Linked DNA regions of Homo sapiens: regions 2, 3, 4, 5, 6 and 7 are each linked to region 1. The links come from fine-mapping of genetic effects on gene expression. A gene starts in region 1. Each other region holds a variant in brackets. All regions are shown on one strand. Distances are from middle to middle.

Region 1 (4,063 bases):
GCTACTCAGAAGGCTGAGGTGGGAGGATCACTTGAGCCTGGGAGGTCGAGTCTGCAGTGAGCCTCCATCTCCCAGTGATTGCACCACTGCACTCCAGCCTGGGTGACAGAGCAAGACTCTGCCTCAAAAAAAGAAAAAAAAAAAGTTACTAACAGCTGGGCACAGTGGCTTACACCTGTAATCCCAACGCTTTGGGAGGCTGAAGTGTGAGGGTCACTTGAGTCCAGGAGTTTGAGACCAGCCTGGGCAACATATGGTGAGATCCCATCTCTACAAATTAAAAAACATATTATTAAAGAAAAAAAGAATTTGGTCAACTTAGTTTAAAAAAAAGAAAAAAAAAGAGAAAAAAGTTACTTTTTTCTATTTTATTTCTTATTTATGAATGTAGTGTCATTTTAATATAATTAAAAGCATATTAATCTGACACCAAAGGGGAAACTCCCTTGCCTCAAGGAAGAATGGGGATGCCAAATGACCCTGGACCCCGGAAACCCTGTCCAGGAGCCCCCACAAAGATGGGCCCAGTCTAACTTCAGAGGAAAGGAGTGAACTCTGATTAGAAGCTTAAGAGCTGAGTTTGAGTTCTGTCTGCCACAGCTAGCACTGTGGGAAGATCGCCTAAGAAAACTAAACCCCAAATCCCAGTTCATAAAATAAAGCTGAGACATCTCTCGCACAGTTCTCCTTGTGCCTCTGCTCACACAGACCCAGACAGTTTTCCTCAAATGCCACTTTTTTTTTTTTTTTTTGAGACAGGGTCTCACTCTGTCCCCAGGCTGGAGTGTGGTGGCGCCATCATGACTCACTGCAACCTCCACCTCCTGGGCTCAGGCAATCCTCCCACCTCAGGCTCCTGAGTAGCTGGGACTACAGGTGCACGCCACCATGCCTGGCTAACTTTTTTTATTATTTGCAGAGACGAGGTCTCACTATGTTGCCCAGGCTGGTCTCAAACTCCTGGGCTCAGGCGATCCTCCTGCCTTGGCTTCCCAAAGTGCTGGGATTACAGCTGTGAGCCAATGCACCCAGCCTCAACTGCCACTTCTGACCTTGGCTTCCCCCGGGCTGGGCCACAGCTCTTCTGTGGCAGCTCTGCTCTTCCTACCAGCGTTTCCTTGTCACCTTGACACACCCATTCCCTCCCTGCCCGCTCCCTGCTCAGAATCCTCTCTGTAGCCCCTTCAAGAGAACTCAAGGTTCTCTTGAACTACAAACTCCAGCAGGGGGTCCCTGGAGCCCAGGTTAAGGCTGCCGGCAGTCGCATACGGATCCCCAGGGGAAGGGGCGCCCTCCTCACTCAAAGCTCACCTGTTCAGGTGAGAGCCTCAAAGCGCCACTCTACAGCTCCCCTGGTTAGGTCAGTTCTCCCCACAGCCAAGGCCCAGCGTGTCCACCAATCGTCCAGCCGGAACAAACTAAGACACACTTTCTTTGGCAAGATAGAATTTTCCACTTCTCGCCAAATCCCACAGCGCAAACCCCGCCCGTCAGCATGGAGGGCAGACTGGGTCTCCGCACTGTCATGTGAAGGTGTCCAAAGCCGCCCCAGCTGGAGAAAGGCCGGAGACCGAAGTCCCTCCCGCGGGCTTCCTGCGTCCGGGGATTAGGAGGCACAAAGGGCCGGCAGGGACACAGCCCAGATGGCAGGGGCAGGGGCTAAGCCGCCGGGGCACCGCGCTCCGGCCGCCGCCCGTGGGGAGGGGGTCACCGCAGACGCGCGTCGCCAACCCCGCTGGCCTGGCGCCTGCACGTGGGCCCGGGGACTCCGTCTCTGCCCGCGGTGCCCCCCGCACCCAGCCGGCCGGGGCACCTGTTCTCCTGCTCTCCTAAGCCAACATTATTGTGCAAACCCAAGCCCAAGTTTCAGTCATCGCGCAGATCAGGCAGAGAAGTTTCCCGCAGAACTTTCTACAGGTGTCTCTCTTCCAGGCCAGCACAGCGACGCGGACAGGGGCGAGGCGCGCGGACCTGGGCGCAGCCCTCCCGCCCTGGCCCGACAGCCCAGGGGTCCTGGGCCTCCCTGGCCTCCCCGCCCCAGGTGGAAGCCCCGAGGGGGCGGGCCCGGCTGGGCGAGTCCGGCACGCATCTCACCTGGAACCCCGGGCCAGCCCCCGCCCGAGGCCTCGGCGTCCCTCGGCGCCCGCCGCCGGCCCCGCTCGCTCCGCCGCGCCTGCCCACGGGCTGCTGGGCGGCCGTCTCCTTCCTGCTCACCTCCGGCGCGGCGAGCCTGGGGCGGAGCCGCGCTATTTACATAAAGGGCGAGCCTGCCGGGGCCCAGCGCCCCGCCCCCGGCCCGCCCCCCAGCTCGGCGCCGCAGGGGCGGGGGCACCCTCGGGGGTGGGGGCTGCGCTCCTGCCAATCCGCGGCCCCGGGAAGCGCGGGGCGGGGCCTCGCGAACGGCCTCGGGGTTCCGCAGGCCCGCCCCGGCCTCACCTGCGCGCACCTGGACGCAGAACGGCGCGCCGCGCCCAGTGTCCCGCCGCCTCCCGCAAGCGGAAATAGTTCCCGGAACGCCTGCGGTCCCGGGCCGCCTCCCAGACTCCAGGGGAGCCGTCCCTCCAACTCCCGGGAGCTGCCGAGGGAGGGGCGGATCCGGGCCAGCTCCTCTGCCAGAGCCCAGCCCAGAGAGGGTGACCGGGGGACGCAGGGCCGGGTTTCCAGCCCCACGAGAGGGATGGTGTAGGGACCGGGGCGTCGCGGCGAGACGCCTTTCCTCGGGGGGGGGTGCGGGGGGGCGCCCACCTCCTCCGTGTCGGCCGGAGGGTCTGCAACAGCGGGTGGAATTTTTAGCACAAGCGAGGGAGGAGGTTGGAGCGACGAGAGGCGGGAGCGGAAAGGGCGCGGAGGCCGGGGCTGCAGCGCGCTCCACCGCCCAGCTGCAGGTGGCGCCTCTCGCCACCCGCACCCCGCTGCGCCCAGGGAAGGGCCGATGGCGCGCCGTCCTCCCTCCTCCCTTCGGGAAGCCTGCGACGTCCCATCCCCTCCGACGCAGGCCCGGGAAAGGCTCAAAAGGTTCGAGGTCGCGTTCCTGCTATCCCGCGGGCTTCTCTCACTCTTAGATCCCGCACCAGAGGAAGCGGATCTCCTTGAGTGGGCAAAGCAGGGGTGAGGGGCTGGGGGCAGTTCCACTGACAACGGGACGGGGGCGAGAGGGGTTTACCCAGTACATACAGAAACAGCAGAAAAGAAATCTATTTTTAATGGCTTTGGCTTTATAGCACGAAGCAGGCACCCTCTCGTTAAAGGCACACAGTCCTCTCTTCTGCCCCACCTCCTGGGTCCTTAAAATCGAGTCCTGAGTTCCAGAGGGGTCACTGCAAGGCAGCAGGGAAGGGAGAGGGTCACAGTTTCACTCTGTGAGTATCAGACACCCAGGGCCAAGGCCCAGACTGGCCTCTGAAGCTACAGGTTAGAGTCTGGGTACAGGAGGCAGCCGAGATGGTCCCTGAGAACAGACAGTCCCGGTCCCCCGGAGCAAGCTCCATCCTCTGCAGAGCTGTGAGGTCAGTGCCCCACATCCTGGGGCAACGTGAAGTCCCTGAAGCTGTAGAAGGAGATGTCACCATGATCCACCAGGGCAAAGATCAGAGGGACATCCCCACTCTGGTAAGACAACCGCTTGAGGCTGCAGAGGTCTGGGACAGGCTCATCAAATCTGCAGGGACAAAGGGTTAGAGTGAGACCCAGCCATAGCCCACTCCTAAGCTCTAGGGCTCCCAGAGAAGAGATTCTACGGAAGGAGTTGGGGTGCAAGAATTCTGACCCATGAGTTCTGTCTCCAAAACACAGGGCTCTGATGAAGAGCGCCCCAGAGCACTGGTTGGGGAGGTGCTAGGAAGAGCAAGGTGCTCACCACTCTTAGCCTGTAAATCCCCACAATCCACATCCCTTCTGCTGGGTGAGTCCTAGACTAAAATGGCATTGGAGAAAGACTACCCTAAAATGCCAGCAACGAGGAGCTCAGAGTAGGGCAGCACAAACTGGCTGTGTGGCCTTGTGTAGGTCACTTAGCCTCTCTGGACCTCCTGTTCCTCTCAGAGATTGGCACGCTGGCCAGGGG
Region 2 (4,063 bases), 46 kb before region 1:
TCTCTCCTTACTGAGGTCAGGATGTGGAAGCCCAGGGCCCAGGGCTGGAAGGAATGCCGTCTCTATTCCCAGCCCAAACACTACCTGCTCACTCGGGACCCTTCCCTCCCGTCCAGCCCCAGGTCTGGGCCGGGTGTGGCCCAGGTGTGCATGAGCCCAGGAGGCCTGTCTTACCCTCGCCATCACTCTGAGTCCCTGAGTTCCTGTGGGGGAAGAGACAGTGAGGACCAGGGCCCCCGGGCTCCCTGCCCGGCTCTGAGAGCCCTGGTCCCATGAAGAACAAGTCAATGGCGCAGCCTGTCCTGAGCCGGAGAGCCTGGGAGGTAAACTGAGTCCTGCCCTGGACTGCCAGCTTGCACAGGGGCAAGGGGCACGCAAAGAGGCAAGGAGAGCCGGAGCCTGGGAGGGTGGGCTGAGCTCGTGGGGAGGTGCCTCCAGCCAGGCAGCAGTGGGAGCCTCGGTATCTCAGAGAGGGCAGGGAGGGGCGGGAGGGGCGGGAGAGGCCTCTGGCCCTTTCACTCACCTGGCTCGGCTCGGGGCCTTCTTGGGGCCCGCACCGTTACCAGGGCGGTGGTTCTTGGTTTCTGCTGAATCCACCAGACACCGGGGCTCCACCAGCCACTTGGTGGAGAGAGAGAAGCGCTCAAACTCCGAGGGTGAGATCAGGTAGAAGCCTGGGGAGTGGGGGCAATGCTAGCGGCCTGGCCTGGCGGCTGCCAAGGCTGCCTCCCCACCTGGGGGAGTAGGGGCTAGTGCTCCCTCGCAGTTCTCCGCTTAAGGCCCATCCAGTCTGGCCGTGGCCACAACACCCCTGGCCACCCTTCCCGTCCGTGCAGTGCCCGGGGCCCCGACACCCACCCAGCCCGGCTCAAACACCTTGGCCATATTTGGTGAAGACGCAGGAGGCGATGCCACTGACGTCCTCCCGGCGGATGCAGCTGTAGCGCACCTGGGGCTTGAGCAGGGGCAGCGAGACCACCTGGATGTCGCCCAGGTTGGTAAGGACTGCCAGGTGGTGCTCCCCGTAGTCCTCGGCTCGACGACTGCCGAAGTGGGCCACGCTGACCCGCCGCACTCTTGAGCCCTCCAGGGCCGTCAGCTTCAACTTCAGCTTGGCACTCACCTTGGGCAGCGTGAACACCTGGGGGCGTGGGGTGGTTGTTCATGCCCATGGCCAAACCAGTTCTCCTGCCCTGTGCTGCTGCTGCTGGGCCCTCCCCTCCCCACATGCCTCCCGGTGTCCTGACAAACCCTTGGCTCTCAGATGCACAGACATGGCCTGGGAGGATGCCGAGGTCACCGACTTCCCTATCTGGATTTTTTTTTTTTTCCTCCGAGATGGAGTCTTGCTCTGTCGCCCAGGCTGGAGTACAGTGGTGTGATCTCGGCTCACTGCAACCTCCGCCTCAGGCAATTCTTCTGCCTCAGCCTCCCGAGTAGAGCTGGGATTACAGGCGTCCACCACCATGCTGGTTTTTTTTTTTTTTTTTGAGACGGAATCTCGCTCTGTCGCCCAGGCTGGAGGGCAGTGGCACAATCTCGGCTCACTGCAAGCTCCGCCTCCTGGGTTCACGCCATTCTCCTGCCTCAGCCTCCTGAGTAGCTGGGACTACAGGTGCCCGCCACCACGCCTAACTAATTTTTTTGCATTTGTTTGTAGAGACGGGGTTTCACCGTGTTAGCCAGGATGGTCTCGATCTCCTGACCTTGTGATCTGCCCGCCTCGGCCTCCCAAAGTGCTGGGATTACAGGCATGAGCCACCGCGCCTGGCCCATGCCGGGCTATTTTTTTTT[G/TG]TATTTTTAGTAGTCAGGGTTTCACCATATTGGCCAGGCTGATCTCGAACTCCTGCCCTTGTGATCTGGCCTCCCAAAGTGCTGGCATTACAGGCATGAGTCACCGCGCCTGGCCCCCTGTCCTGCCTCAGTGTCCTCACACGAGACTCCCCCCTCACTTATTTCCTGTACTTCTGCAGCCCCTCAGACACCAACTGCAAACAAGACTGAGTCCCAGCCATCATTTTTGCCCAAGGTCCGAGCCTCCTGGATGTCCCGGGGAGTCCCAGGGAGACCCGCCGCTGCCCGTGTGGCACCTTGAACTGCTCCTCTGATACGACGAGCAGCTGGTGGCTTCCCTGCATGTCAGGGCTCTTCGACAGATCATGGGCCACTTCGAGGGGCTCGGGAAGGGGTACGCTGTGTCCGTCGAGCACCAGGATGCCCACCACCGGCGCCCGGTGCATCAGCTGGATCTCCTTGGCTAGGGGGAGGAGGTGGGTGTTGGGGCTGGTGAGGGGGTGGCAGGGCTGGAGCCACTCCCTGGACCCAGCCCAGGCAGCCCGAGCACCCTCTGCTCTCCCTGCCCAGCACTCACCCTGCTCTGCCCGCACAGGCTCATCCATTCTCCGCTCGGCGGGAGGCACACGCAGGGAGAAGGCATAGATGGTGCCCCCATTGGTGCCAGCCCACAGCGAGGGGCAGTGCCGGGAGCCTGCCGAGAAGCCATGTTTGGGTGTCTGACCCTTAGCGTGGGAGTCGGGTGGAGCTGGGCAACCAGGGTTTACTCCCAGGTTTTCCCTCCTGGGAGAGGCTGGAAGGCTCTCTGACAACCACACAGGCCCCAACATAGAAGACCCCAATCCCAGGTCAGCTCAGCCCTTGCTGTGATACAGCAGGGGAGAACCAGCCAGGGAGAGACACGTCATCTGGAGACCAGCAGGCTCTGCTGTCCCCGATCGTCACAGCTGCTCTAGGAGGAAGCTGTCACTTCCTCATTTACAGAGAAGCAAGCTGAGGCCCTGAAAGGCTAAGTGATGGGTCTGAGGCCATGCTTCTAAAGGGTGCTACGGCCTGGATATAAAGCCAAGGGAAGCTGACTCAGAGGCTGAGGCAGGGGAGGGGAGTAAGCAGGCAGGGGCTGCAGTCTGCCCCTGCTCACAAGGGGAAACCTCTTAGCTCCTACCAGCCAGGCAGGCAGCAGCCCCCGGCATGCCCCCAGGTCAGGGGGTGTCTGCTGCCCACTACCCCCTGCCCCCCAACCCCAGGCTGGCCACTCACTGTCCTTCAGGTAGGTGTCAGCAAAGTACAGGGTCCGGACGAAGCCTGTGAAGGAGTCCTCTGCCGAGCGAGCCTCGATCTTGCGCTGCACAGGCGCCAGCTCCATGTTCTGGAGGCCTGGCCGCTCAGCCTTGGCACTCCCCTCCTGTGCCTGCAAGGGGTGGGCCAGCCTAAGGGTCAGCTCTGGACTCCCCTCCCCAGGAACAGTGCTTCGCTCAGTGCTGATCCTTGCATCGGAAGGCAGGCCACAGCCATGCCAGCCACCTGCCAGGCCTGCGTCTAGAGGGACCCTTGTCCAAGAGGGAGGTGCCCTTGGGGGAGCCTGCCTGGGCCCCCAGCATGTTGTAGAGAGAAAAAGGAAATCACTAACGTTTACTGGGGATTACTTCTAGGATAAGCATTACAGTTACTGCCTTTCTGCTCAGGAAGCTGAGGCAGAGAGAAGCAGCGTGACCTGTCTGAGGTCACACAATGCGACCTGGACCCTGAATCTTGTTTGTAGCCTAGCAAGCCTGGGGAGCAGGGGCCGTGTGGCCCCCCTGCTGGCTGCTCTGAGCCGAACCTGGGTGCGTGGCCGGCCGCAGCCTCACCTCAGGCCTCACCTCTCCTGGGGGGCCAGCCGGGTGCCGCTTCCGGCTGGACACCCGGCTCCGACGCATCCGGCGGAATGACTGACGCAAGGACTTCTTGAGGGACTTGACGCGGGAGAGTGGGCCCTCCAAGGCCAGCTGGTCACTGGGGTGCAGTGTGCACCTTGGGGGGATGGCAGGCTGTCAGTGCTGCTAGGTCCTGGGAGTCCTCGCGGGCCCCACTCCCAGCCCCGGGACCCAGCCGCCCCTGCTCACTTAACAAAGACCTGCCGCCGCTGCTGGTGGTCAAAGAGGCCAAAGCCATGGCTGGTGCCGAAGGCCACGAGCCGCCACTCAGAGTGCAGGGCCAAGGAGGTGACCACAGCCGGGGGCTGACACTGCACCAACACGAAGGGCTGAAAGCCAGGCTCAAAGCGCAC
Region 3 (4,063 bases), 200 kb after region 1:
TACTTACAAGAGAACAAAATATGCTGTCCTCCAGGCTGCTGGGAGCAGTGAATATTTTTAATTTTTTTTCAGAAGCTACCCTTGTCACGATTTTATTAATAACGCAACATAGTGGACCCCTGAGAGCCCCTGCAGACCACTGTCCTCCCGTTCTCACCCACCCCTCATTCACAGGCCCTGCTCCTAGCACAGAAGCAGTTGCTGGCTTGCCTTACAAGTGTGTCAGGGGAGCTGAGGCTTTCCACGCTCAGACTAGAATGCCCTTGGACATTGTCCACTTGCTTTCACAGCAGCTGGTGGCGGAGACTTTCAGGTGGCTTGTCGCATCTTGAGTGGGAGGGGCCTGTTGGATCACAGCACATCCTCCCCAGGTCCCATATAAGCCACATAATTTGTGTACTTCTGTTTCCTTCAGTCGTCCTCAAAAGAAACTGTAGGTCAAGGGTTGGCTAAACTTTTTCTGTGAAGAGCCAGATAGCAAGTAATTTCGACTTTGTGGGCTGCATACAATCCTGTCAAATATTCCTTGTAAAAATTTTCTTTTAACAATCGAGTAGAAATTTAAAAAACAGTCTTAGGTTGTGGGCAGATTTGGGCAGAAGGCCATTATTGTTTGCTGGCTCCTTCATTAGATCCAAACACAACATCGACTTCAGTTCCCTTTTGTTTTCATATTTTCAGATTGAAAGGGAATTCAACAGAACATCATACTACACTTCTTATATGACATGCCTGTGGCTCGAAATTCTTATTTTTCTTCAGTGTTTCGGGTGACACAGGCATTTAAATCTGACTGTTGAGGAAAGATAGGAAAGGCTACCTTCCTTGGAAAGTTGTAGTTACTGCCAGGCTGACTGGGACAGTCACTCCCTTGCCTTGACCTTTTGTCCCCACTATGAAGAACTTTAGAAGAATTGATGGAGAAGCACCCAGCACAGGCTCAGCTGTGTTGTTATTTGCAGACTCTGCCCAAAGGGTGGGCAGTGCTCAGCCACTCTGAGCTCTGAAAAGGCAACTAGCAACTTAAAAACCCTTATTTATTCAGGTCTACCATATTGCTAACAAAGACCATGCTTGTGCCTATGTAGGTGTTTGGCCTTGCAGACGTAGTTGCTGTTGTATAGGGCTGCTCTGTGGCTGGATGTTCATGAGTATAGGGTCAGGGTCAGTACCAGGCCTTCTCCTCCACATCCTACCACCTCCTGTTTTTTTGTTTGTTTGTTTGTTTGTTTGTGGGGGTGGGGAGCAGGGGTTATGGAGGAAGAGGGAAGCATAAAATGTAGCACCATGTCAGCTAATGCAGCATTCAAGTTAACAAATTAGACTACAAAATGATTGTTGGCATTAGTGCTGCAGCATGAGTTGTATATGCTTGAGGGGTGGATCCAAATATGTGCTTTTCACACTAAATGCATATGGATGGGAGCCTACGGGATGTAGTAAAGAATTATATTGGAAAATTAGCCTTCTCCCCTCACCCCCTTAGCTCTCGCCCTTGCTATTTCTGTTGTATAAGCCCACCTTTTTTTTTTTTGTTTTTTGTTTGTTGTTGTTCTTGTTGTTTTTATGAGACGGAATCCTGCTCTGTTGCCCAGGCTGGAGTGCAGTGGTGCTATCTCAGCTCACTGCAACCTCCGCCTGCTGGGTTCAAGCGATTCTTGTGCCTCAGCCTGCCGAGTAGCTGGGACTACAGGCGCGTGCCTCCACTCCCGTCGAATTGTTGTATTTTTAGTAGAGATGGGGTTTCACTGTGTTGGCCAAGCTGATCTCGAGCTCTTGGCCTAAAGTGCTGGGATTACAGGTGTAAGCCACCGCACCCTGCCAAAGCCCATCTTTTGTTTGTTTGTTTGTTTGTTTG[TTTGA/A]GATGGAGTCTCGCTCTGTCGCCAGGCTAGAGTGCTGTGGCGCGATCTCGGCTCACTGCAACCCCCAACTCCCTGGTTCAAGGGATTCTCCTGCCTCCACCTCCTGAGTAGCTGGGATTACAGGCATGTGCCACCATGCCTGGCTAATTTTTGTATTTTTAGTAGAGATGGGGTTTCACTGTGTTGGTCAGGATGGTCTCAATCTCCTGACCTCCTGATCCGCCCGCCTCGGCCTCCCAAAGTGCTGGGATTACAGGTGTGAGCCACCACACCCGGCCCAAAGCCCATCTTTTTAAAGACTTTCAAAACATTTGCCTGTTAGAGCTTGCAGCAAGCCAAGATCACGCCACTGCACTCCAGCCTATTCAACAAAGCAAGACTCTGTCTCAAAAAATAAAAAATAAAAAAAATTCACCCGTAAGCATGTAGTCACATGTACATATCATCATTTTAAAAAGTCAAATTTATAAATGATATAAAATGCTATAGAAATGTAGAATGGTGGTATTTCAGTGTTTTAGTAGTGACAGCTATTCACAGGGTCTTGCTCTGTCATCCAGGTTGGGCTCAAGTTATCCTCCCACCTTAGTCTCCTAAGTTGCTGCGTCTACAGCTGTGCACCACTATGCCTGGCTAATTTTTTATTTTTCGTAGAGACAGGGTCTCACTGTGTTGCCCGGGCTGGTCTTGATCTACTGGGCTTAAGCAATCCTCCCACCTTAGCCTCCCAAAGTGCTGGAATTAACAGGCGTGAGCAACTGCACCTGGTGCCAGATTTTTTATTTCTTGATCTGGGTGCTTATAACAGAGTTGTGGTTTTTTTGGTTTTTGGTTTTAATTCCAGTTAGAGTACTTTTTAAACATTATAATTTGTACTTCACTACAATTTATTTTTTTTAATTGAAAATAAAATTGCGTTAATTTTAAGCTGGGGGCAAGAAAACACAGCAGCCATGTCTATGTGACACCAGACAGAAAGGTCTGGAAACCTAAGTGTTAGAACCGCCAACACGTGCTGCCTCTGGGGAGTTTGAGGGAAGCATCTTACTTTTTATGTTTGCTTCATGTACATCTAGGCTATTTCAGTTTATATTCATTATTTTATACCTACAAATGGGAAAAAACCTCCCTAGTGGAGAGATCTTGGGGGCCTAGGAGGAAAGAGAGCCTTGCTGATTGAGAATCTTCACCCTCACCATTGCTATTGGAAGTGGCAGTGGTGGGGAGTGTGGGGCAGTGTGGGGAGAGCCAGCCGAGGCCATGTGTGGATTTTCACTGCTGTACCCAGTCAGATGCATGCTGCATACACTTATATTAGAAACCCAGGGCCCCCCGATATGAGAAGGTTTAAATACCGTTGATTGGGGCCCCCCGATTGAGAAGGTCTCAATACCGTTAAGTGTCCTTATTTATTTATTTATTTATTTATTTATTTATTTTTTGAAAGCGAGTCTCGCTTTGTCGCCCAGGCTAGAGTGCAGTGGCGCGATCTCGGCTCACTGCAAGCTCCGCCTCCCAGGTTCACTCCATTCTCCTGCCTCAGCCTCCTGAGTAACTGGGACTACAGGCACCTGCCACCACGCCTGGCTAATTTTTTGTATTTTTAGTAAAGACAGGGTTTCACCGTGTTAGCCAGGTTGGTCTCGATCTCCTGACTTTGTGACCCGCCCGCCTCGGCCTCCCAAAGTGCTGGGATTACAGGCGTGAGCCACCACACCCGGCCTATTTAATTTTTTTGAGATGGAGTTTCACTCTTGTTGCCCAGGCTGGAGTGCAATGGCACGATCTCGGCTCACCGCAACCTCTGCCTCCCGGAGATTCAAGCGATTCTCCTGCCTCAGCCTCCCGAGTAGCTGGGATTACAGGCATGCGCCACCGCGCCTTGCTAATTTTGTATTTTTAGTAGAGATGGAGTTTCTCCATGTTGGCCAGGCTGGTCTCGAACTCCTGACCTCAGATGATCCGCCCACCTCGGCCTCCCAAAGTGCTGCGATTACAGGCATTGAGCCACCGCACCCAGCCTCCTTTTTTATTTTATTTATTTATATATTTTTTTGAGACAGAGTCTCACTCTTTCGCCCAGGCTGGAGTGCGGTGGCACAGTCTCGGCTCACTACAACCTCTGCCTCCCAGGTTCAAGTGATTCTCCTGCCTCAGCCTCCCGAGTAGCTGGGATTACAGGTGCCCACCACTGTGCCCAT
Region 4 (4,063 bases), 130 kb after region 1:
ACTGCAGTGGCGCAATCTCGGCTCACTGCAAGCTCCGCTTCCCGGGTTCACGCCATTCTCCTGCCTCAGCCTCCCGAGTAGCTGGGACTACAGGCGCCCGCCACCGCGCCCGGCTAATTTTTTGTATTTTTAGTAGAGACGGGGTTTCACCTTGTTAGCCAGGATGGTCTCGATCTCCTGACCTCGTGATCCACCCGCCTCGGCCTCCCAAAGTGCTGGGATTACAGGCGTGAGCCACTGCGCCCGGCCTAGCCTTTTTTTTTAAGCACATACTGATGTATTATTTTGCCTTACAGAAATAGGATAAACTATAATTTTTCTGCAGCTTTAAAAATTTGAGGAGAATGGCTTGAACCCGGGAGGTGGAGGTTGCTTTGAGCAGAGATCATACCACTGCACTCTAGCCTGGGCGACAGAGCAAGACTCCGTCTCAAAAAAAAAAAAAAATTGATATATCCTGGTATTTATGTAGATACTCCATACACAAGCTCATGGATATTGATCAAGGGTGTGGGTGTATATGTGTATGTTGCACATTGTATTTTGTCTCATTGTTTCAGTGAGATAAATCTGGGAAGTGGAATTGCTTGGTCAAGAGTATGTATTGGTCAGGCACAGTAGCTCACGCCTGTCACCCTGGAACTTTGGGAGGCCGAGGTGGGCGGATCACTTGAGGTTGGAGACCAGCCTGGCCAACATGGTGAAACCTCGTCTTTATTTGAAAATACAAACATTAAAAACACACACAAACACACAAAAAAAGAAAATTCAAAAATTAGGTGGTGGTGACACGCCTGGAATCCCAGCTACTTGGGAGGCTGAGGCAAGGAGAATCGCTTGAACGCAGGAGGTGGAGGTTACAGTGAGATGAGATCACACCACTGCATTCCAGCCTGGGCAACAGAGCGAGACTCTGTCTCAGAAAGAAAAAAGGAGCATGAGGCTGGGTATGGTGGTATGCATGTAATCCCAGCACTTTGGGAGGCCAAGGCTGGTGGATTGCCTGAAGTCAGGAGTTTGAGACCAGCCTGGCCAACCTAGTGAAAGCCCATCTCTACTAACAGTACAAAAATTAGCCAGGCATGGTGGTGCACGCCTATAGTCCCAGTTACTTGGGAGGCTGAGGCAGGGGAATTGCTGGAACTCAGGAGGCGGAGATTGCAGTGAGCTGAGATCGTGCCATTGCACTTCAGCCTGGGTGACAGAGCAAGACTCCATCTCAAAAAAAGGAGTATGTATTTACAAAAATTAGCCAGGTGTGGTGGCACACACCTGTAGTCCCAGCTACTTGGGAAGCTGAGGCGGGAGGATGGCCTGAGCCTGGGAGGTCAAGGCTGCAGTGAGCCAAGATGGCACCCACTGCACTCCAGACTGGGTGACAGAGCAAGACCCTGTCTCAAAAAAAAAAAGAGTATGTATTAATATTTCAAAATTGTCGGTCAGGGCCGGGCACGGTGGCTCATGCCTGTAATCCCAGCACTTTGGGAGGCTGAGGCAGGCGGATCACGAGGTCAGGAGATCGAGACCATCCTGGCTAACATGGTGAAACCATGTCTCTACTAAAAATACAAAAAAATAAGCCGGGTGTGGTGGTGGGCACCTATAGTCCCAGCCACTCGGGAGGCTGAGGCAGGAGAATGGCATGAACCTGGGAGACGGAGCTTGCAGCGAGCCAAGATTGCGTCACTACACCAGCCTGGGCGACAGAGCGAGACTCTGTCTCAAAAAAA[T/AT]AAATAAATAATTGTTGGTCGGGCGCGGTGGCTCACGGCCTGTAATCCCAGCACTTTGGGAGGCCAAGGCGGGTGGATCACGAGGTCAGGAGTTCAAGACCAGCCTGACCAACATGGTGAAACCCTGCCTCTACTAAAAATACAAAAGTTAGTCAGTCGTGGTGGTGGGGGCATGTAATCCCAGCTACTTGGGAGGCTGAGGCAGGAGAATGGCTTGAATCCAGGAGACAGAGGTTGTGGTGAGCCAAGATCGTGCCACTGCATTCCAGCCTGGGTGACAAAGCGAGACTCCATCTCAAAAAAAAAAAAAAAAAAGAAAAGATTGTCAAGGCCAGGTGTGGTGGCTCACCCCTGTAATCCCAGCACTTGGAAAGGCTGAGATGGGGAGGATCACGTGAGTCCAGGAGTTTGAGATCAGCTTGGGCAACATGGTGAGTCCTGGTCACCACACACACACACACACAAAAATTAGCCAGGCATGGTGGTGTGCACCTGTAGTCCCAGCTACTTGGGAGGCTAAGGCAGGAGGATGGCTTGAGCCAAGGAGTTTGAGGCTGAAGTGAACCATGATTGCTCCACTGCACTTCAGCCTGGGCAATAGAGCGAGACTCTGTCTCAAATAATAAAAGTAAATAGGCTGGGCGCAGTGGCTCACGCCTGTAATCCCAGCACTTTGGGAGGGCAAAGTGGGCGGATCACCTGAGGTCGGGAGTTCAAGACCATCCTGGGCAACATGGCGAAATCCTGTCTCTATTAAAAATAGAAAAATCAGCTGGTCATGGTTACAGGCACCTGTAATCCCAGCTACTTGGGAGGCTGAGGCAGGAGAATCGCTTGAACCCAGGAGGTGGAGGTTGCAGTGAGCGGAGATCACGCCACTGCACTCCAGCCTGAGGGATAGAGCAAGACTCTGTCTCCAAAAAATAAATAAAAATAAATAAAAGTTGTCAATAGATTACCAAAGAACTCACCAAAAAGATTGAGCTGAGCTCATTAATTCCTTGCTGTAGTGTGGGTTCTGTGGTGATTTTATTATTATAATGTAACACCAAGCCACATTGTCAGTTAGTAACTTCTCAAAATGTTGAGTCAGTGGACACCGGGTAGGGTAAAAAGTCTTTGTGCCTGGTGCGGTGGCTCATACCTGTAATCCCAGCACTTTGGGAGGCCAAGGCAGGCAGATCTGTTGAGCTTAGGAGTTTGAGACCAGCCTGGGCAGCATAGGGAGACCCCATCTCTACAAAAAAAAATGAGTAGGCTATGGTGGCTGGTGCCTGTAGTCCCCACTAAGGAGGCTGAGGTGAGAGGATCCCTTGAGCCCAGGAGGCGGAGGTTGCAGTAAACCAAGATCACGCCACTGCCCTCCAGCCTTTGCTACAGAGTGAGACCCTTTCTGAAAAATAAATAAATAAATAAAAGTGTGTTTACTCAAAGTATTGCAGATTGGATTTTATAAATATTTTTAAAATTTGCCAATTAGTATATGAAAACTCTGATTGTTTTAATTTGCATTTCTTTTCATATGTTTTAAATAGAGTAACATTTAAAATTTCTTTTGAAGGCTGGGTGCAGTGGCTCATGCCTGTAATCCCAGCACTTTGGGAGGCTGAGGTGGGAGTTTGAGACCAGCCTGGCCAACATGGCGAAACCCCATCTCTACTAAAAATGCAAAAGTTAGCCAGGCTTGGTGGCGCGCACCTGTAGTCCCAGCTACTTGGGAGGTCGAGGCAGGAGAATTGCTTGATCCTAGGAGGCGGAGGTTGCAGTGACCTGAGATCGTGACACTGCAGTCCAGCCTGGGCGACAGAGCTAGATGCTGTCTCAAAAAATAAATAAATAAATAAATAAATAAATAAATAAATAAATTTTGAGTGATTATTACATGTCGGGCTCTATCCAGAGCACTTAATGTATGTTATATATGTTGTCTAATTTAATCCTCAGTGGATCTTATAAGGTAGATATTCTCATTTTACAGATGAGAAAACTGGAGCTTGTTTCACAACTTTGCCCACAACTGTAGCTGTAAGTGTGAGGGGCCTGCCTCTAGAGACCATGAAGATTCAACACTAAGCTATACTGGACTGTTGTCATGTATTTTATTTTCTGTGAATTTTGGGAAGAAGAGAGTTAAATGGAAGAAAGAAAAAAAATCTTGCAAATACCTTTAGGATAGTAGTTTTTTTGGATACAGTAGACATTGTTTGAAATGAATGATTAAAGCTGTACTTACCTTTCTTAAAATTCACTGCTTGGGATGGGCTGGTAACAGTTTCGAGGTTACTCTCATTAGGCTTCAGTGTTAAGTACACTATACCCCATTTTCTTGGGAA
Region 5 (4,063 bases), 29 kb before region 1:
GGAGGCAGGGGCACAGAAGGGCCTAGGCCTTGCTACTGGCGCACCAGCCAGCCACTCACTGAATGATCACTGGCTGAGACATGGGCGTCAGGTCCTTCCCTCTGGATCCACCAATACAACCCCTGCAAAACAGGTCTCTGAGCCCCCCAGCAGCCTCACCCCCTGCCCGGGACTGGGGGATTCCTGAAACCTCCAGGAATAGGTGAGAGGGGAAACTGAGTAAAGGGAGCAGACCACATGAAGGGTCCTGAAAGGACACAGGAGACAAAATAAGCCTGTATCTCCTCAGTCCATTTCAAACCTCACTGTCCTCCTGCAAAGGACAGGGTCGCATCCCACCAGGGATGCACTCATGCCCAGGTGCCTGCTCCACCATCAACCATACCTGCCCCATTTTGGAATAAAATCATGTCCAAAACTGGAAATCAGGAAAGTCCCTCATTTTATCCCAACAGCCCACGGGCAAGGAAGGAAAAGATGTCCCTCCCCAAATCTCACCCACCCCAAGGCCCTGCCCGAGTGGGAGCGAGGGGACGGAGGATACAGCTTGATGGCTCCAGAACGGGTGCCGATGGCCAGGATGCGCAGGGACGGGCTGTAGCCGAGGGCGCTGGGCTGGTGCGGGAAGCCATGCTCCACCGTCTGCAACGAGAAGCACGTGGGGTGGGCCTGCAGACCTGTCCCCTTCGCGCCACCATGGCTGCTGCAGCTGCAGCACCAGACGACCCAGCAGGAAGCAGGGCTTCGGTACCTTTCCGGTTCCTCCCAGACACCTGAGTGTTGGAGCCTAACCCATATTTACCAGGCCCCACCCCCTGTCCCTTTGTGACTCTGCCCTTGGCCTCATGGCCACCCCTGCGAGCTGATCTTCCCCGACACCATACCAGCCTCTCAATGCTTTCCAGGAACTGACTCGGTGCCTCCACCACGTGCACCCTGGGTGACGGACCCAGCCCTCCTCAGTGGCATGGGGGCCTTATGGGTGTGGGGTGGGGAAAGTAGGGGGAGTTTGGAACAATGGAGACACCGGTCTCTCGGGAGAAAATCTTGGTTGCACCGCAGCTCCGGGCTCACCCAGGGGCCTAGAGTACCGCGGAGGCCCTGCCCTGCTCTGGGCTCTTCCAGGTCCCTCCAGGCCCCAGTCAGCTGGGTCTCACAGACTCTTACTGTCACCAAATTCCAACCATCTTCCCAGAAAGGGAATTCCTGGAGTGTCGTTGCACATACGTGTTTTTTTCATTTATTACAGAATACACACACACACTGTGAAAAACCTGGGAGGTATAAAGATGTTTAAGAACAAAAACTGAGGCTGAGGCAGGAGAATGGTGCGAACCCGGCAGGCAGAGCAGCCTGGGCGACAGAGCGAGACTCCGTCTCAAAAAAAAAAAAAAAAAGAACAAAAATTACCCAAACTCCCACAACCAGAAGTAACCTTGCTAGAACCTAAGTGTACATCCTTCGAGTCTTCTGCACTTGTGAATGTTTGCAGGTCTATTTTTTTTTTTTTTGAGATGGAATCTCGCTCTGTTGCCCAGGCTGGAGTGCAGTGGTGCGATCTCGGCTCACTGCAAGCTCCGCCTCCCGGGTTCATGCCATTCTCCTGCCTCAGCCTTCCGAGTAGCTGGTACTACAGGTGCCCACCACCATGCCTGGCTAATTTTTTGTATTTTTAGTAGAGACAGGTTTCACCGTGTCTCTATCTCCTGACCTCATGATCTGTCCACCTCAGCCTCCCAAAGTGCTAGGATTACAAGCGTGAGCCACCCGCACCCAGCCAAAAATTTTTTTTTTTTTTTGAGACGGAGTCTTGCGCTGTCGCCCAGGCTGGAGTGCAGTGGTGTGATCTCAGCTCACTATAAGCTCCGCCTCCCAGGTTCACGCCATTCTCCTGCCTAAGCCTCCCAAGTAGCTGGGACTACAGGCGCCCGCCACCACGCCCGGCTAATTTTTTGTATTTTTAGTAGAGACGGGGTTTCACTGTGTTAGCCAGGATGGTCTCGATCCGCCCATCTTGGCCTCCCAAAGTGCTGGGATTACAGGCATGACAAAAATTTTTAATTTTTCTTTTTTGAGGGTCTCACTCTGTTGCCCAGGCTGGGTGCTACGGCATGATTTCGGTTCACTGTAGCCTTGGCCTCCCAGGCTCAAGTGATCCTTCCACCTCAGCCTCCCAAGTAGCTGGGACTACAGGCATGCACCACCACACCTGCCACACCCGGCTACTTTTTAATTTTTGGTAGAGACAGGTACTCGTCATGTTGTCCAGCCTGGTCTTAACCTTCTAGACTCAAGCGATCCTCCTGCCTCGGCCTCCCAAAGC[G/A]CTGGGATTACAGGCGTGAGTCACTGCAAGCTGCCTAAAATGGCTTTTTTTTTTTTTTTTTTGAGACGGAGTTTTGCTCTTGTCACCCAGCCTGGAGTGCAATGGTGCGATCTTGGCTCGCTGCAAACTCTGCCTCCCAGGTTCAAGTGATTCTCCTGCCTCAGTCTCCCCAGGAGCTAGGATTACAGGCACCCACCACCATGCCCAGCTAATTTTTGTATTTTCAGTAGAGATGGGCTTTCACCATGTTGGCCAGGCTGGTCTTGAACTCTTGACCTCAAGTGATCTGCCCGCCTTGGCCTCTCAAAGTGTTGGGATTACAGGTGTGAGCCATCATACCCGGCCTAAAATGACTTTTAAAACATCTAAAGAATATTCTTTACCTGTAGATATCCTAATTCACCAGAGGTTTATTGTTGAGTATTTACTTTGTTGCTAGAGGGTTTGCAATCCAACAACCATGTCGATGGCATTCTTGGACTCCTATCTTTGTCTGCACCACTTGAGTATTTCCTGGGGCAGATGTCCCAGGGATAGAATTGTGGGTTAAGAAAGGTATGAACATAAACCCACTACAAATTTAGAGTGATAAACCATCTTCAGGAAGGTTTTTAGTTCAGTTTCTTAATCAGTTACCCCAATCTGACCCCCGCCTCCCACCCCGGGGGATAGTGACCCTGCAGAGCTAGGTGAGAACAGCACAAAGCGATGCTATGTCAACTGATTGCTTTAAAGACTTAAAAAACAACCACAGAGACTCTGACTTGCAGAAAAAGGTCCCAACAATGAGGCAGCCTCCTTAGGCCCTGGGCTTTCCTACTTTGCAGCCCTGCCAGGCCTCAAAGCAGCAGAAAAGGAGAAGTCCCTGATGAGATCTAGCAATGATAGCTTAGCAAACCCAATTGCTACCTGCCTCCCCCATCAGTCAGTCTAGTCCAATGGCTCTCACAAGGAATCCCATGCTGGGGTCAGGCAGGGAGGAGAGCTCCAACAAGTGCCTATTTTGGGGGATGCCTGGAGACAAAAAGGTCGGGGGAGACGGGGGGTGCCTCAGGCCTGGCCTTTGCTAGGAACAGGGCCTGCCCTGCAAATGGTCATACCTAAATGGGATAGCCAGGGGGACAGATAGGGCCCAGCAGCGGCCCCCAGGCCAGCCCAGGTCCCTGTTCAGCTATGCGAAAAATGCAGAGCCTGGAGAAGCCCTGGATAGAGATAGCTGAGTGTCTGGAATGTAAACATTTCCCAGGAAAAGGGGAGTAGACAGTGGGATAGGATGTGCAGGACAAGCTCCCCCAGGGGCCCCACCAGACCTCAGCCAGCCCCAGGTTGCTGGGGCCTCAGGAAGTCAGCAGCCGGAGCCGTCTCCCAGGACAGCAGCACTTTCCCAGCAGCAGAGGCAGCTCAGGGAACAGCCTCTGGAATTTGGAGGACTCTGGTGGAAATGCCCTACAGGAGCCCAATGGCCTGGCCAGGAGCAGGCCCCATGCTCCGAGCTGCCCAGAACGGTAGCCATGAGCCCCATGGGGCCACCAAGCACTTGCAGTATGGCTCATGTCACCAATGAGGATTAAGTCAGTTCTTGGAAACCCTTCAAGTATGTCTGGAACAACTCGGGTTCTAGAAGAACAGGGGCTGGACTCAGGCAGGCCACGCTTCGAATTCCCTTTTTCCACTGTAAATCATCCAAATTCTAAATACAGATCTAGTACTTCCAAAAAAGATTTAATGTCTGAACTGAGA
Region 6 (4,063 bases), 40 kb before region 1:
CAGGCTGGTGTTGAACTCCTGGGCTCAAGTGATCTTCCCACCTTGGCCTCCCAAAATGCTGGGATTACAGGCATGAGCCACTGTGCCCAGTCTTTTTTTTCTCTTTTTTTTTTGAGATGGAGTCTTGCTCTGTCACCCAGGCTGGAGTGTAGTGGTGCGATCTCAGCTCACTGCAACCTCCGCCTCCCGGGTTCAAGCGATTCTCCTGCCTCAGCTTCCCAAGTAGCTGGGATTACAGGCACTCACCACCACGCCTGGCTAATTTTTGTTTTTCTTTTTTATTTTTTGAGACGGAGTTTCGCTCTTGTTGCCCAGGCTGGAGTGCAATGGCATGATCTCGGCTCACTGCAACCTCTGCCTCCCGGGTTCAAGAGATTCTCCTGCCTCAGCCTCTCGAGTAGCTGGGATTACAGGCACATACCACCAATGCCTGGCTAATTTTTTATTTTTAGTAGAGACAGGGTTTCACCATGTTGGCCAGGCTAGTCTCGAACCCCTAACCTCAGGTGATCTGCCATCCTTGGCCTCCCAAAGTGCTAGGATTACAGCTGAGCCACTGCCCCTGGCTGACGCTGCCTCTTTGAAGTGCTTGTCTTCCCTGCTACTCTGGGGTCTGCTGCCCGCTGGCTGCTCCCAGGTGTTCTTTGCCAGATCCCCACCAAACTTCATGCCTCCAAGGCTTGAGGGTGCCCGGGCTCAGCTGTCCCATGGCTTCTCTTCTGTCTTCCTTACCACCTGGGCAGCCTCATCAGGGCCCCTGGTTTCACATCTCTTTTTTTCTTTAAACCTCAAAATCATTGAGCAGCCTTCACACATCTCTGCGTGGATGACTCCAAATGGACACCTTCCCGATCTCTCCTCTGAACTCCAGACCCATAAGCCCCAGTTGTCTACTCAGCATCTCCCTTATGGGTCTGGAGATCAGAGGAGACATTAAGTCCTCAGACTTGATCCCCGCCCAGCTGAGCTTGCTGCACCCTCTTGCCACTACCTTCTCCAGGATTCCTGGTGCTCCCAGCAAACCCTCACGTCATCCTTGACTGATCTCTCCTCCCCTCGTTTACCTCTCCCTAGACAAGGGGCCAAGAAATTACAGCCTGAGGACCAAATCTGGCCTCCTGCCTATTCCTGTCAATATGGCTGTCCTGGAACACGGATACGCCCCTTGTGTTGTCCATGGCTACATGTGCTCTGCAATGGCATTAGGCTGAGTAGCTGTGGGGAAGAAAGCCACCCAGCCCTTTATAGCAACAGTCTGTGAGCCCTGACCTGGCCCCTGAGCCAATGCTGAATGTTAGAAAAGACAGCGTAACCCCAGCCACCTCCTGCCAGTCCCATGGCCTGCACCGCAGCCCAAGCTGAGGTCACCTCTCCCTCGACTCTCACTGGGCTCCCGTCTTTGCTCCACTCCGTGTCCCCCACATGGCAGCCAGACAGATCCTTCTGGAGCAGAGGCTAGATCATGGCACCCCTGCTCAGGGCCCTCATCTCCCTCAAACCCCAAGTCCTTACCGTGCCTCCACGGCTCTATACGATCTGGCGCTGGCCACATCTGGACCAGCACGGGGGCCATTCTGCCCTCTCTTCGCCCCTACCTCATTGGAGCAAGCCAAGAGCCCTCCCAGCTCAGTCTGCACCCCAGGTCCCTACAGGGCAAGCCTTCCATCAGACTGCTTCCGTGTCTGCGCAAATACGTCCCCTTATCAGGGAGGCCTTGCCAACCCTTGTCTAAACCAGCACTGCTGTCCTCTGCCTGGCTTTTTTCTTACCTCTGACATTATCTGGCAACCTACTCACTCTGTCCACATACTCAGATCTAAGTTCCATGGGAACAGGGGCCTCATCTGTTTCTAGAACAGGGCCTGGCATATAGCAGTTGCTCATTAAACAGGAGAGCCTACCAAGGACAGCTGGGTCACAACCCGGCACAGCAGAACCATTACGTGAGAGCTTCAGGGTGCCCACATATCATCTGAGGGAAGCACCGCTCATCAGGCACCCACCTCCTGGCCTGCGGGACTGCGGGGAGTTGGGGACACAGAGGGACAATTGCAGGAAGGTGGCCTGTCCTAGAAAGCCCCAGCAGTCTCGAATTTGTAGCTCAGCAAGTTTCTTCCCTCCCTTCCTGACCTTTCCGCTGGGAATCAGGTAACTCAGTTAGCCCGGGGAGTGTGGCCACCATAGCCCAAGAGGCCCCCGCTCTGTGCCAACATGGCCCAAATGTTGTGGAAAGAGCAGAGCTGGGCCCTGCTCTCAGCATCCAGGGTGTGAGGAGGGAGGAGAGGCTGAGAAAGAAAGAAAAGCAGGTTTGGGGTTCCCCTGAACAGGGTAGATAGAGGCCG[T/C]GAGTACACAGACCAGGTGTCCTGAACAGCCCCGCCCCCTCACCTTTCGGCCTCAGGCCCTTTCAGGCCAGCATCATTAGGAGAGGGCCCTCCCTCCTGGAGAGCTCCTGCAGGGCTCCTCTCCAGGTTTCAACATCAGCCCTTTCTGGTCTTGCCTGTCACACAATTTACGAGGCTGACTCAGGGCTCTGCCGGTCCTGCTGGAGCTCCAGGAGGCTGCACAGCCACCTTCTGCCCTGCCCAGAAGGCGGGCTTTGCCATCTCTAAGCCAGGACCCTCTTGCCTCAGCGGGGTGGGTGTTAAATCCAACAGTACAGATCAGCCCCCTGTGGGCTAAGTCCCATTACAGTCTGGAAAGGGCAGAGAGCCCGGGGCAGACAGGAGGTGTGGCTGGGCTGGGTCTCTAGCTGGGGAGGGTGGCAGGGAGGCAGAGAAAGGAGCTGTAGGGCTTGATGACACTGCACCTTGGGGTGCAGTGAGGCTAAGGGACTCAGGACAGTGGTAGGCTTAGGAACATCTGTGCAGAGCCCTTTTTTTTTTTTTTTTTGAGACACAGTCTGGCTATGTCACCCAGGCTGAGTACAGTAGCATGATCCTGGTTCGCTGCAACCTCCACCTCCCAGGCTCAAGTGATCCTCCCACCTCAGCCTCCTGAGTAGCTAGGACTACAGGTACGTGCCACAACACCTGGCTAATTTTTTTATTTTTTGTAGAGACAAGGGTCTCCCTACGTTGTCCAGGCTGGACTTGAACTCCTGGGTTCAAGCGATCCTACCACCTTGGCCTCCCACAGCACTGGGGTTACAGGCAGGAGCCACTGCACCTGGCCCTGTCTTTACTGATGGTCCTGCCCCATGCCTCCCACACCTAACCCTGGGCACCCACTCCCGAAGCTCTCCTACTGGCTGCAGGGTCTGCCTCTGTGAGGACAGTGAAGCCGATGACACGGGAGGTGAAGTCGAAGGCCGTCTGCTGGCCATCGTGGATCACTGAGATGCAGTGGCGGTCCCCGTAGCTGGCCCGTGGCATGCCACCCTGGAAGATGGTGAAGGGCAACCTGGCAGGCACAGAGGAGCGGCAGTGGGCTGGGGCTCCTGGCACAGCCTCAACAGCCACAGGCCGGCAATCAAAGTCACCACTCAGTCAAGGTCCCCAGGAGCAGGGGAGACTGGACCCCATCTCCTTCCAACTGCTACAGCCCAGGAGGACTTGGAGGTAAGGTGAGGGCATCCAGGCTGGGGGCTCTGAGTCTCAGCAGCCACTCCTGCCTCATGCTGGGTGCCCCCACCAATTCTGTTTGAACATCACCCAGAGTGATTTTGTCTGAAGAAACAGGGCTGCCAACTAAAGGAGTTTAAGACCTGCTGCTCAGTACCGTCTCTCTGGGAAGGTGGAAGAAAGGAGCAAGAATGAACTTGGCAGGAATTGGGCCGCTGAGAGACGTGAATAGCGTCTACCCTGTCTCCCCTCCCTGGTGTCCAAGACCCCAACACGGGACCTGAGAGTGTTCACTGGCACCAACTTCCCAGGCAGAGGCCTAAGTGACCTTTCTAGCCCTCCAGGAAGGCTCTGGAGAGGAAAGAGGACCAGCATGGATACCTACCCCTGCCTAGTGGTCAGCCAGAGGATTCTGGTAATCGCTTTGCAAGGAAAGGGACCTGAAAGGAAAGGAATCGGCTTGAACGGATCCTCAAACTCTCAGACAAGTGTCAGTCCCCACA
Region 7 (4,063 bases), 52 kb before region 1:
TCTACTAAAAATACAAAAATTAGCTAGGCATGGTGGCATGCACCTGTAGTCCCAGCTACTCAGAAGGCTGAGGCAGGAGAATCGCTTGAACCCGGGAGACGTAGGTGGCAGGGAGCCAAAATCACTGCCACTGCACTCCAGCCTGGGCGACAGAGCGAGACTGTCTAAAAAAAAAAACCCAGTAGCTTAAGGACACATAACCACTAAATATGGACTTGAGGACCAAGCCCAGGCCCTCTGGCCTTTAATACCCACTTTTCTGCTGAACCCACACTGTGGAGCTCCGCAGCGCTTCTGCTGGAATCAGCTTTGGAACCAGACAGCCTTGGTCCCCCATCCCAGCTGCAGTGCTCCACCCTCCTGGCTCTATGACCTTGAACAACCTTCAGGGAACAGCTTGGCTAATCTTGACATGCAGGGAGACAGGCCACACCCCCGAGCCTGGCTCTCCCCTCTGCTTCCCACTTTCCCACTGACTTCCTTTGCCTGCTTCGCTCACCAGTGTATAGTGAGCTCCTCCCTGGGGCTGTGTGCCGCGCCCTCTCTGGACTTCCTTCCACACTCCCTCCCTCTGGAGCCATCTCCTTCTCTCCTGGCCTCACCCACCATCCACAGTAACTTTCACCTCCTAGGGTTGGGTGTTTACTAGGAATCAGGTGCTGTGTGATTTTACAGGCTCTCATTTAATCCTTTACAACCCTCTGAGGTAAGTCCTATTATTATCCTTCACTTTACAGATAAGTAAACCAAGGTATGGGAGTGAGGTCATGTACCCAAGGTCACACAGCCAGTCACGTGAAAGCCAGTGTACAGGGTTGGATCTGCCTGGCCTCAAATGCTAAATGAACACCAGGTCTCCACCACTTTGAATGCCCAAGACCCTCACATCTCAATCTGCAGACTGGCAGGGTGTGGCAGCTCATGCCTATGATCCCAGCACTTTGGGAGGCTGAGGCAGGAGTATCCTTTGAGACCAGGAGTTTGAGACCAGCCTGGGGCAATATAGGGAGTCCCTGTCTCTACAAAAAATTTAAAAATAAAAAAGTAGGACAGGCGCGGTGGCTCACGCCTGTAATCCCAGCACTTTGGGAGGCCGAGGCAGGCGGATCACAAGGTCAGGAGTTTGAGTCCAGCTTGGCCAACATGGTGAAACCCTGTCTCTACTAAAAATACAAAAATGAGCTGGGCGTGGTGGCTAACGCCTGTAATCCTAGCTACTCGGGAGGCTGAGGCAGGAGAATTGCTTGAACCTAGGAGGCGGTGATTGCAGTGTGCCGAGATCATGCCACTGCACTCTGGCCTGGGCGACAGAATGAGGCTGTCTTGAAAAAAAATAATAATTAGCTGAGCATGGTGGCGCCCACCTGTGGTCCCAGCTACAAGTTTGCTCCAACCCAAGAGTTCAGGCTACAGTGAGCTATGATCACACCACTGCACTCCAGCCTGGGCAACAGAGCAAGACTCTGTCTCTAAAATAAATCAATTTCCGTGGCCAGGCTCAGTGGCTTATGACTGTAATCCTAGCACTTTGGATGACTGAGGCTGGAGGATTGCTTGAGCCTCGGAGGTCAAGGTTGCAGTGAGCCATGATCTCATGCCACTGTACTCCAGTCTAGGTGACAGAGTGACACCCTGTCTCTAAAAAACAAATAAAATAAATCTCCTGACCACAAATCCAGTTGCCTGCTGTATACCTCCCTGGCCCTTGGAGGCAACAGGTAGCCCTCACGCTCACTCATCTCCTCCCATCTGGCAGCCATCCTTGTCAACCCAACCCCTCAATGCCTCTATTTCCCTACCACCGTCGCCTTGCCCTGGATGGCTGTGGGGATCCCAGCTTCCTCCAGTTCATTTTTTTTTTTTTTTTGAGACGGAGTCTTGCTCTGTCCCCAGGCTGGAATGGAGTGGCATGATCTCGGCTCACTGCAGCCTCCGCCTCCCGGATTCAAGAGATTCTCCTGCCTCAGCCTCCCGAGTGGCTGGAATTACAGGCACACGCCACCACACCTAGCTAATTTTTGTATTTTTAGTAGAGACGGGGTTTCACCATGTTGTCCAGGCTAGTCTTGATCTCCTGACCTTGTGATCCGCCTGTCTCGGCCTCCCAAAGTGCTGGGATTACAGGCATGAGCCACCGCTCCCGGCCCCTCCAGTTCACTTTCTAGAGAGGAAGATGCCACGTCCTTCCATCTTGCACACCCATCAATACAAATTGTTGTTCATCTCACACTCCCAGTGGGAATATTTTTCTTTTTTTTTTTTTTTTTTTGAGACAGAGTCTCACTCTGTCGCCCAGGCTGGAGTGGGGTGGCATGATCTCGGCTCACTGCAAGCTCTGCCTCCTGGGTTCACCCCACTGTCCTGCCTCAGCCTCCTGAGTAGCTGGGACTACAGGCGCCCGCCACTATGCCTGGCTAATTTTTTGTATTTTTAGTAGAGATGGGGTTTCACCATGTTAGCCAGGATGGTCTCGATCTCCTGACTTCGTGATCCGCCCGCCTTGGCCTCCCAAAGTGCTG[C/G]GATTACAGGCGTGAGCCACCGTGCCCGGCCGAGAATGTTTCCTTAAACTGAAATATGCACACCGACATTAGCTAATACTTCAAAGCACAGCATACTTACAGCAAAGCTCAAAGTTCAGCACTAATCAGCAAGGAAATAAGTTCATGTTCGGAGTCTTCCTGATATTTTCAGGGCTGTGTGTTTTCGACTTCTTGTTCAATTTCATCAGCAAGACCTGTGCTGTGGCCACCAGGCTCCTCTGTGCCACAGAAGTGCAGGTTCTGCCGTTTTTTTCTGATTCACTGGTACTTGCATCATCACCATTATCTTTTTTTTTTTTGAGATGGAGTCCCGTTCTGTTGCCCGGTCTGGAGTGCAGTGGTGCGATCTTGGCTCACTGCAACCTCTGCCTCCCAGGTTTGTGATTCTCCCACCTCAGCCTCCTGAGTAGCTGGGGTTACAGATGCCCGCCACCACGCCCGGCTAATTTTTGTATTTTTAGAAGAAACAGGGTTTGACCATGTTGGCCAGGCTGGTCTCGAACTCCTGACCTCCAGTGATCTGTCTGCCTTGGCCTCCCAAAGTGCTGGGACTACAGGCGCGCGCCACCACGCCCAGCTAATTTTTGCATTTTTAGTAGAGACAGGGTTTCACCATGTTGACCAGGCTCGTTTTGAACTCCTGACTTCAAGTAATCTGCCCCACCTCAGCCTCCCAAAGTGTTGGGATTACAGGCGTGAGCCACTGCGCCCAGCCACCTTTATGGCATATGTTCTTTATGGCAGTATGGGAAGGGACTGATACAGGTGTCTCACCAGGTATCCCCCACCCCTGTGGCTGGTCTCTGCCAGGCATCATCCCTTCCCTGCTTCTTCTAGCATGGTGTTCCTCTCCCTTTGGGGAACTGCTCCCCTACATTCCTCATAGTTCTCGAGGTGCTCATCTCAGAAGTCTTTCTGCACCCTCCCCTGGGGAAACAAGGGACGGTCAAGTGGCCATCTCGAGGTGGACATGGCCAGATGGAACACCTGTACCCAGCTCCTCTGGATGGGCCTTTCCTCGCTCACGCAGAGCAGGCGCCTGTCACACCTGGCCCTCACTGGGCCTCCCTAGTCTGGCCTCACTTTCGGCCCTGCCTGCCAGCCACCTTCCGCTCTCCACTGCCTCCCACGGCAAGCGAGTTCCTGGAGTGGCGGTGAGCCCTCTTGTCCTCTGTCTGGAACAATCTGCTTGCTTACCACACTCTCTGGCAATTCCTGGTTCTCTCTCAGGTCACCCCCCAGGTGCATTTCTCACCAGTGTCAACTGTGGCAGGAACCACAGTTGTCTCAGACACCGGAGAACCCCACGCACTGGCCATACAGTAGGTGCTCAACGAAGACGAGTCAATAAAGATCCAGCCCATGTCCAATCTAAATAACCCAGCCCCTCCCCTGGGGAAGGCCTTTCTCCTTGGGTACCAGCCCCGCTTCAGCAGCACCCCACAGTCCTCCCTGGTGTCTGGAGGAAGCCATCAGGTCTGAGATATTGTGGGTGTCCTTCTTCTGACAGTAGGGAAAGGCCA

Which allele goes with the higher level. Alleles are on the strand shown, and positions count from the first base shown. SD is a standard deviation of normalised expression in the study named. Not every link is listed here.
In carriers of allele G in region 2, the expression in monocytes after LPS of the gene that starts at base 2,223 in region 1 tends to be higher than with TG alone (large effect, 0.93 SD a copy in Quach 2016).
As copies of A replace G in region 5, the expression in tibial artery of the gene that starts at base 2,223 in region 1 goes down (small effect, 0.40 SD a copy in GTEx).
In carriers of allele C in region 7, the expression in lymphoblastoid cells of the gene that starts at base 2,223 in region 1 tends to be higher than with G alone (moderate effect, 0.51 SD a copy in GENCORD).

Evidence for each region. PIP is the estimated chance that this variant, and not a neighbour inherited with it, causes the effect.
Region 2: its variant is the best candidate, but not a certain one, in a credible set for the expression of LLGL2 in monocytes after LPS (Quach 2016, PIP 0.74).
Region 3: its variant is the best candidate, but not a certain one, in a credible set for the expression of LLGL2 in whole blood (INTERVAL, PIP 0.80).
Region 4: its variant is the best candidate, but not a certain one, in a credible set for the expression of LLGL2 in monocytes (BLUEPRINT, PIP 0.54).
Region 5: its variant is the best candidate, but not a certain one, in a credible set for the expression of LLGL2 in tibial artery (GTEx, PIP 0.62).
Region 6: its variant is the best candidate, but not a certain one, in a credible set for the expression of LLGL2 in whole blood (TOPMed, PIP 0.89).
Region 7: its variant is the best candidate, but not a certain one, in a credible set for the expression of LLGL2 in lymphoblastoid cells (GENCORD, PIP 0.63).

Annotation. Positions count from the first base shown.
Region 1 is chr17:75,523,857-75,527,919 of GRCh38, reverse strand. It overlaps LLGL2 (LLGL scribble cell polarity complex component 2), which reads right to left and starts at 2,223. Exons shown (of 26, transcript NM_001031803.2): 1 at 2,095-2,223. It overlaps TSEN54 (tRNA splicing endonuclease subunit 54), which reads right to left. Exons shown (of 11, transcript NM_207346.3): 11 at 3,185-3,658. The coding sequence ends at 3,508. RefSeq lists silencers at 2,517-2,701, 2,018-2,737, 2,758-2,857.
Region 2 is chr17:75,570,092-75,574,154 of GRCh38, reverse strand. It overlaps LLGL2 (LLGL scribble cell polarity complex component 2), which reads right to left. Exons shown (of 26, transcript NM_001031803.2): 15 at 3,900-4,063; 16 at 3,657-3,807; 17 at 3,055-3,205; 18 at 2,372-2,488; 19 at 2,091-2,257; 20 at 877-1,141; 21 at 524-674; 22 at 175-203. Among named protein-coding and RNA genes, the nearest start is that of MYO15B, 16 kb to the left of the region's middle. RefSeq lists enhancers at 2,616-2,785, 2,896-3,025. The variant G/TG (reference allele first, on the strand shown) is at 1,795.
Region 3 is chr17:75,328,179-75,332,241 of GRCh38, reverse strand. All of the region lies in intron 3 of GRB2 (growth factor receptor bound protein 2), which reads left to right. Among named protein-coding and RNA genes, the nearest start is that of SLC25A19, 41 kb to the right of the region's middle. The variant TTTGA/A (reference allele first, on the strand shown) is at 1,859.
Region 4 is chr17:75,397,350-75,401,412 of GRCh38, reverse strand. All of the region lies in intron 1 of GRB2 (growth factor receptor bound protein 2), which reads left to right. Among named protein-coding and RNA genes, the nearest start is that of GRB2, 6.3 kb to the left of the region's middle. The variant T/AT (reference allele first, on the strand shown) is at 1,731.
Region 5 is chr17:75,552,625-75,556,687 of GRCh38, reverse strand. LLGL2 (LLGL scribble cell polarity complex component 2) reads right to left here. Exons shown (of 26, transcript NM_001031803.2): 3 at 545-642. Among named protein-coding and RNA genes, the nearest start is that of LLGL2, 29 kb to the right of the region's middle. RefSeq lists an enhancer at 3,679-4,063. The variant G/A (reference allele first, on the strand shown) is at 2,324.
Region 6 is chr17:75,563,689-75,567,751 of GRCh38, reverse strand. LLGL2 (LLGL scribble cell polarity complex component 2) reads right to left here. Exons shown (of 26, transcript NM_001031803.2): 9 at 3,946-4,000; 10 at 3,245-3,399. Among named protein-coding and RNA genes, the nearest start is that of MYO15B, 22 kb to the left of the region's middle. RefSeq lists an enhancer at 714-863. The variant T/C (reference allele first, on the strand shown) is at 2,343.
Region 7 is chr17:75,575,469-75,579,531 of GRCh38, reverse strand. No RefSeq gene overlaps it. Among named protein-coding and RNA genes, the nearest start is that of MYO15B, 10 kb to the left of the region's middle. The variant C/G (reference allele first, on the strand shown) is at 2,520.